2 linked regions of the Homo sapiens genome follow. The protein of the gene in region 1 purifies or fractionates together with the protein of each later gene. This does not show direct contact. Each region holds a gene or a part of one and is shown on either strand. Other genes may lie near its edges. The genes, in order: ABCG1 and ADGRG5.

What was found.
Region 2: the proteins of ABCG1 (region 1) and ADGRG5 purify together in Homo sapiens (co-immunoprecipitation; one large-scale study listed by IntAct). This does not show direct contact.

The regions. Positions count from the first base shown.
Region 1 is NC_000021.9:42,277,891-42,281,696, forward strand, and holds part of ABCG1 (ATP-binding cassette sub-family G member 1), read left to right. Parts: intron 1-3,806. UniProt on the Homo sapiens protein: Catalyzes the efflux of phospholipids such as sphingomyelin, cholesterol and its oxygenated derivatives like 7beta-hydroxycholesterol and this transport is coupled to hydrolysis of ATP. The lipid efflux is ALB-dependent.
Region 2 is NC_000016.10:57,563,101-57,566,906, forward strand, and holds part of ADGRG5 (adhesion G-protein coupled receptor G5 isoform 1 precursor), read left to right. Parts: coding exon 1-147; intron 148-747; coding exon 748-879; intron 880-1,933; coding exon 1,934-2,050; intron 2,051-2,188; exon of another isoform or gene 2,189-3,498; coding exon 3,499-3,651; exon of another isoform or gene 3,652-3,806. UniProt on the Homo sapiens protein: Orphan adhesion G-protein coupled receptor (aGPCR). Ligand binding causes a conformation change that triggers signaling via guanine nucleotide-binding proteins (G proteins) and modulates the activity of downstream effectors, such as adenylate cyclase.

The sequences.
Region 1 (3,806 bases):
ATATTAAGTAAATGTAAACCACTTTGGTATGGAAAAAAAGAGTTGGACAACCTTAATGCTCCTCCTCCCCCATCAACTGTGCCCTTCAAAACTCAGGATTCAGCCCGTGTCACCGGGGCTGGGGGGTGAAATGCCCGGTGCAGGTGGAAAGAGCCTAATGTCTGAGAGAAGGAAAATGACTCTTTGTTGCTACAGAAAATGTTCTGTGTGGAATTCTTTTATTCTGAGATTGAAAAGAAAATGGATGAGTGGAAACCAAAAGAGAGAAAATGTGGAAATCACATGTGTTCCTGGCCCTTCATGGGGGCAGAAGACCCAGCCTTGTGAGTTTATTGTCTAGGCTGAAAGGCGAGAGCCCCCTCTGGATAGTGTTTTCTAAACAATGTAACGTAGACACCCCCCCACAACACACACACCACCTCCCAAGCCCGAGAATGTTACTTATACCAAGTTATGGAAGATGAGTGTTATGGCCTGAATTCCCCCCAAAAGATGATATGTTAAAGCCTACACCCCAGAAACCCAGAAATGGCTGTATTTGAAGATCGGGTCTTTACAGAAGTAATGAAGTTAAAATGGGGTCATATGGGTGGGCCTCAGTCCAGTCTAACTGTGTCCCTGTAAGAAGAGGAGAGGAGGACCCAGACACACCAAGGGATGGCCCCGTGAGGACACAGGGAGGAGGCGGCATCTGCCAGCCCAGGAGAGGGGCCTCAGGAACCAACCCTGCTGCCCTCGATCTCAGACTTTGGCCTCCAGAATTGAGGCGGGAGTTTCTGTTGTGGAAACCAGCCAGTGTGGGGGACTTCGTTACAGCAGTGAACGTAACAAACGAGAGCCTTAGTTCCAGGCACACAGAAGAACATGGAGAAAAGCAGGTGTCAGAGCTGAGTCTCGGCGAAGTCTCCCATGGGAGATGAACCCAAATCAACAGAACGGGGCCCTGGGATTGAGCCAGGGCGACCTTCACTCTCCCTGTCTGAGGTCAGTTTTGCCACCCCCCAGTCCTGGGCCCTCCTTGCCATCAGCTACAGGACAAGAGGAGAGGCCGGCAAGAGTGTGCAGGGCCCCCATGAAGCAGAGGCTTTTCCACCCGGAGACTCAAGAAGCTGCTCCTCCCGAAGCCTGGATGCAGTGCCCCTGGATCCGCCTTTCAGGGCCCTCCTTCCCATCCCCCGGCCTCCCTGCTTTCATGGGGTGTCGGAAGCACAATCCAATCTCTTTGTCTCGGATAGCCCTCCATCGAGGTCCCAAAGACCCCTCCAGATGCTGGCCTGCAAGCTGAGGGGCGGCTGTGGGGGCTCCAAGGAGAGACGGTGGAAGTGGTCACTGATGCTCGGCGTGGAGGAGGAGCCAAGAGCTCTGGAGAGGGAGGCGCTGGAGAGAGGGAATTCTGTCTCTCTGACCCAAAATAAGGCCCAAGGACAGAGCAAACGGTGGAGAGGGTCTCGGGGATCACCGGAGGCCGGGGGAGCAGACGCAGGAGGCGGAGGGCGGAGAGACTTGCTAACACGGAGAGGCCCTGTGGTGAAGTAGAGCTGAGCACACGGGGGAGCCCTCCATCCTGGCCTCCTGGAACCCACCGGATGGCCTTGGGCCACTGCCTGCTGTGCCCCGAGCCGAGCTTCACCTGTAACGTGGGGACAGGAAGCCAGGCCCCACCTGCCTTTTGGGGCAGTGCAACCTGAACTGGATGGTTTCTTTAAGGTCTCTGAGCTCGATGGAGCCCATGTGATCCATATGGGAGGGGCTGTGGGATTGCTTCCCTGCAGCATAAGGCGACAGCCACCAGCCTTTTCCGGGGTAGCTGGTGAAAGTCGCTCTCCCCATGGGCTGGGCGCACAGTGAGTGCTGCTCAGCAGGCTCCGTGCTGAAGTCACAGCAAGCCAGGCCCTTGGCCTGCCGGAGCTGGAAGACCCAGAACAAGCTGGCATCTTGGTGGAGAATGGAGGCGCCTCCCAGGAGTAGCTACACGGGACCCGAAGGCAGATGGCACCCATAGGTGTGTGTCCTCGTGGTGCCTGGGCCCTGCCTAAGACACGGCCCGGATGAGAGCCTCCAGCTATTTTCAACTGGGTTTACAAGGGCAAAAATATCAGCTCATGTGGCTGAATCATCCCTGAGGGGTGAGCCCCTGGCGCCGTCCTCAGATTCCTCTTCGGCTGGATTGAACAATGCAGAGAGCCCTCCCCACAGGACCTGGAGGCCACGCTGCGTCCTGCACATGCTCCTCACCAGCAGACCCAGCTGTTCCTCAGCCATGGCACAGGTGCATGCCTCGCCATCGGGCCCACCATCAGGATTGCTTCAGGAGAACAGGGCAGCAACTTTGTGCCTTCACTCACTTCCCTCCAACCCCCGATGTGCACCTAGGTCAAAGTTCTCTCTCTGTCTCATGGAAACACAATGGGATGGAATGTTCTAGAAGATCATGGAATTTTTGCTGTGTTGTTCACGGCCTTCCTTAATTCCCAGCAAAGCAGCCTCAGCCCTCCAGAGCCCTCCAGCAAGGCCACTTCCTCAGGAGTGAGGTCTCCAGGGGCAGCCTGGGCTGCCGAGATCCTCCCTGGAGCGCCCGCCGGGAAGCCCCAGGGGGGCTGGAGCTACAAGTGGCCTTGCAGGTTTTTTGTTTGTTTGTTTAGGGAAAATGTATAAATAACTGAGATCATTGTTTGTTCTTTCTGACTAGTCTTTAAAACAGAACCCTTCTGGGTGGCATCACTCCTGAGCGGACACTGGAGAAAGTGGGGTGGGCCCAGCTCATGGGCAGGGGTGCGGAGGGAAAGGCACCCACAGCGGCCTCCGCTTCCAGCATCCCCTCCGTGAGGGTGGAGGGAGAGAAGAAGATGTGCCGCATGTGTGGGGCCCCCACAGTGAGCCTGGAAGCACCAGAGCCACTCAGTCGGCCAAGAGCGTCGCCCAGTGGTTCCAGAAGATCTGGAGGCCTCGTCCTGGGAAGACCAGCAGTCGATGCCAGCTGGGAAGAGGGCTCTGCCCACCTTGCACGCCCCCCACCCACCAGCCTTTTCCAGACAGCCTTCCAGAAGCTGTTTCTGGGTTGGCGGCCCTCAGAGCCAGGCATCCAGCAGAGGCACCAGGGCTGGGGTGAGGGCATCAGCAAGGAGGTTCAGGACAGGGCTGGAGCCCAGGTCGGCTGACCCTGTACTGCCACCTGCCCTGGCCTGTCCAGCAGCCGTGCCCCGGTTCTTTCTGTCACCAAAGCTGCACTTTGTACCGACTGTGCATAAATAATTCAGAAGCTCAGAGTGGAAATTTTCTTCCTCGTGAGTTCTTCCTCCCTTCAGATGACTTCATCTCCCTAGAGGAGCCGCTGGAGTAGGGTCCGCTTGCTATGGCTCCCAGGGGCCGGCCACCACAGGGCTGCCCTGGCAGGGTGGGGACAATAGCTGGGTGAATGCTGGAGGGAGCTCCAGGTGGGCTGTCCCCAGGGTAGGGAGGCAGGGATGGCAGTGGCTGACCCAGGGCCTGCTTCTGAGATGATGCTGGGGCTGAAAGCAGCACCAAGCCAGCACAGAAATCTGCTGACCTTCGTGTTCCCTGAGTCGATACAGGATCAATAATCCGGAGCAGACAGGGAGGGCTCCGTGCGCAGTGCCCTGCTTGTTCCTGGCGTGCAGCCTGCTTCCCAGAGCCTGTGCCGTGGTGTGGCTACCGTGGGTCATGACTGCTTTGAGGGGTACTGCAGATCTGTTTCGTTGCCTTCCTGGCACCTCAGAGACCTTGCTTTCAAGTCAAACCTATTTACAAGAACAAAAGTGACTCTGTCCCCCTCCCCGAGAGCCCTG
Region 2 (3,806 bases), on another chromosome or scaffold:
CAGCTGGAGCAGATGCTACTGAACACCAGCTTCCCAGGCTACAACCTGACCTTGCAGACACCCACCATCCAGTCTCTGGCCTTCAAGCTGAGCTGTGACTTCTCTGGCCTCTCGCTGACCAGTGCCACTCTGAAGCGGGTGCCCCAGGTCAGAGGCTGCGGGTTGGGGGGTGTGGCCAGCTGCCCCGCCCTAGAAGTCCTCCAGGCATTTAAGGTCTGGACTTTCTTTAGGCTCCACTGTCTTCCTCCCCACACCCCACAGTCCAGGCTCTGCCCTAACTGGCAGTGAGTTGCCTCCTCTGTAAAATGGGGCTCATACTCGCTGTGTGAACTGTGGAAAGGGAGGTGCTTTATTGCCCCTGCAGGGCAGAATCTTCTTCCTGCTTTGGCTGGAGGCTGCCCGCTGCGGGAGGCGCTGTGGGAGAGGCCAGAAACCCTGGCTCCTTTTAGGACCCTGGGGTGATCAGCTGGATCCCTGGCAGGGGCTGGGGCTGGTGCTGGGGCTGGGTGCTGAGGTAGCTCCATCTTCAGGGGTTCAGTGGGTCAGGTAAACATCCAAAACTCAGGAACAGCATGGAGGGAAGGCCTGGGATCTTGGGAAGTTTGGGAGGAGATGCAGCCTGGGGGGAGAAGGTTCTGTGGGTGGAAACCCCAAGGAAGGTTTCACGGGGAGTGGGAGGCAGTGAAGGTGTTGGGGTCAGGTCTCCAGGTCCTGGTTGCCAAACAGCCTGTTTGCGACCCTCTGCAGGCAGGAGGTCAGCATGCCCGGGGTCAGCACGCCATGCAGTTCCCCGCCGAGCTGACCCGGGACGCCTGCAAGACCCGCCCCAGGGAGCTGCGGCTCATCTGTATCTACTTCTCCAACACCCACTTTTTCAAGGTCAGTGTGATGGCGGGCCAAGGAGGGTGGGTGCCGGCCCCTTCTTGGGATCCACTGCAGGTGCCCATGTCACTGCCTGGCCTCTGGGTGACCAGCACTGAGTGAGACCAACCAGCCATCTGTGCAATCCAAGCCAGCAATTGTCCCTCTCTGGGCCTCAGTTTCCCTGCCAACTTTAGCAGAATGGTAGGAAGGTATAATTACAATCTGCAAATAAGACCTAAGAAACCTACGATGTGCCTGTCGGTAGGCGGGAGACAGACAAGAAGGCACTTATTATTCCCTGCCCTCAGATAACTCTCTGTCTTGATGCCTAGACTAAGACCTTACAGATTTTTTTTTTTTTTTTTGGCAGAGTCTCGCTCTGTTGCCCAGGCTGGAGTGCAGTGGCATGATCTCGGCTCACTGCAACCTCTGCCTCCTGGGTTCAAGCAATTCCCCTGCCTCAGCCTCCTGGGATTACAGGCGTGTGCCATCATGCCCAGCTAATTTTCGTATTTTTAGTAGAGACCGGGTTTAACCACGTTGGCCAGGCTGATCTTGAACTCCTGGCCTCAAGTGATCCGCCTGCCTTGGCCTCCCAAAATGCTAGGATTATAGGCGTGAGCCACTGAGCCTGGCCTGATCTTAGAGATTTAATGTCAGCAGAAGGTTGATTATAGCCATAGAGATCCAGAGTGATGGATGAGTCAGGGTGGGGTTGGGGCTCTTCCCAGTGGGCAGTCCAGGGGAGTTTCTGGGGAAGGTGCCTTTCAACCTTGGCTTTGAAAGTGAGTGAGGATAGTGGTGAGGTGGAGGGCGTGAGGCTGGAATGCATTAAACGAATGGGAGGTGGAGCAGGGGGTGGTGAGAGGACAGCTTTCCACAGGGCAGAAACAGCACATGCAAAGGCTGGGAGGCTGGGAAGGCTGGGAGGCTGGGAGGCTGAGAAAGCTTTCACGCTGCACACGTGAAAGTCTTGCTGCTTGTTCTCATCCAGGGAAGCGGAGCTCAGACCTTACCCAGGGCCTCCCCATTTCCCCTCCACTCAGCCCTTCTCCTGCTGCCCTTCCAGGATGAAAACAACTCATCTCTGCTGAATAACTACGTCCTGGGGGCCCAGCTGAGTCATGGGCACGTGAACAACCTCAGGGATCCTGTGAACATCAGCTTCTGGCACAACCAAAGCCTGGTACTGCTGGGGGCGCCCCCGTTTCCACTGCACCCCTGCCCCTCTGTGACTCTCCTGTTGAACACTGGTTTGACTAGACCCAAACCTGTGGAACCATCTTGGAAATCCATCACACTTTGAAAATTCCTGCTCAAGAAATAAGAGAGAGAGAAGTTTTTACTCATGCATTTGTCAGAATTCTTTCAGTTGCAAGTAAGAAAAGACCACTTCAAGCCAGCTTGAGCACAGAGGGAACTGATTGGCACACATCCATGAAATGTCTAGAGGTGATCCACCAGCTTCAGACATAGCTGGATCCAGGGATGGATCTGATGCCCTTGTGGCTCAGTCTCTCTCCGTCTCAGCAATGGTCTCCTGTCTTGGCTGTCCATTCTGTGGCATGATGGATGCTGGAGAGCCAGACTTCCTTTCCCTCTTCCCATCAGGCTCTTCCCCCGACTCCCCACCCACAACCTGCCCCAGTGCAGATCAGGGTCTCAGGATCTTAAAGGTTCAGCTGGGTCACACATGTCCATCCCTGCACCTGTCACTGTGCCCAGGGGGATGGAATGTGTGGATTGGCCAGGCCTGGGTCACACGGCCCAGGGACTGGGGTGAAGGAGTGAGCTCCTAGGGTAAGTGCAGATGCTGATCCTGGAACAGAGACAGGGCTGCTTGTTGGGGGTGGGGGCAGAGTGGGGTGGTTCACAAGCCTCAGTGCCTCCATTTCTGGTTCCTGGCATTCCTGAAAAGCCCGGAGCCTCTGCTTTCTGGCTTCATCTTCCCTTCAGCTTCACCAGGACTGCCCTGCACTCTAAATTTCACCATCATCCTTTCCTTTCAGCTCTGGGCTTTTGCCACTATGGTTCCCTCCACCTGGAATGCCCTTGCCCTACTCGTGTTGAAATCCAACACGTCCTCTAAGGGTTCAGGGCCCCCACCTCCCCTTCTCCCTTTGGGTCAGCTCTGCCTACCCTCCATGGTCTTCCGTGACTACCTGTGTCATTTCCTCCACTTCTCCACCCACGTGGCTTGGCATTAGGGTTGTCTGTGGATGAGTCTCCCCCAACCAGGCGTGGGTCTGAGCACATTGCTGTTCCCCATGGGGAGGAAGGGAAGGGATCAGCTGGTTATGGAGCGCCTACTGTATAAAAGGCCAGAGCTGGACACTCAAGATTCCGTGTTGCCCTTTGTTTTTCCACCATTGTTGTAACATGGGTACGAATGATCCTATTCTGTAGATGACTAAACTGAGGCTCAGAGCAACTTGGTGTCTTGCCTGGGTCACTCTGAGAGCCCACAGTGGAGGTGGGACAGGAATCTGAGACTGTCTGAAGCCAAAGGCCAGCCAGTGCCTGGTAAAATGTTGGCAAATGTGCAGTTGAGTCACCGTTGGCCCCCAGGACTCCCAGACACTGATCTGCAGCCTTTCCTCTGCACCCTATGACTGACCCAGCATCTCCACCCAGGAAGGCTACACCCTGACCTGTGTCTTCTGGAAGGAGGGAGCCAGGAAACAGCCCTGGGGGGGCTGGAGCCCTGAGGGCTGTCGTACAGAGCAGCCCTCCCACTCTCAGGTGCTCTGCCGCTGCAACCACCTCACCTACTTTGCTGTTCTCATGGTATGTATGCATCCTGAGTGGGGCTCAGAGCTACAGAGGGCCCTGTGTCTGTGGCAGAGGAGCAAGGCAAAAGCTGGTGCAAGGGACAGAAAGTCCAACTGAAATGGGCTTAAGCAAAAAACAAAAAAAACTTTATGGACTCATGTTTCTGGAAA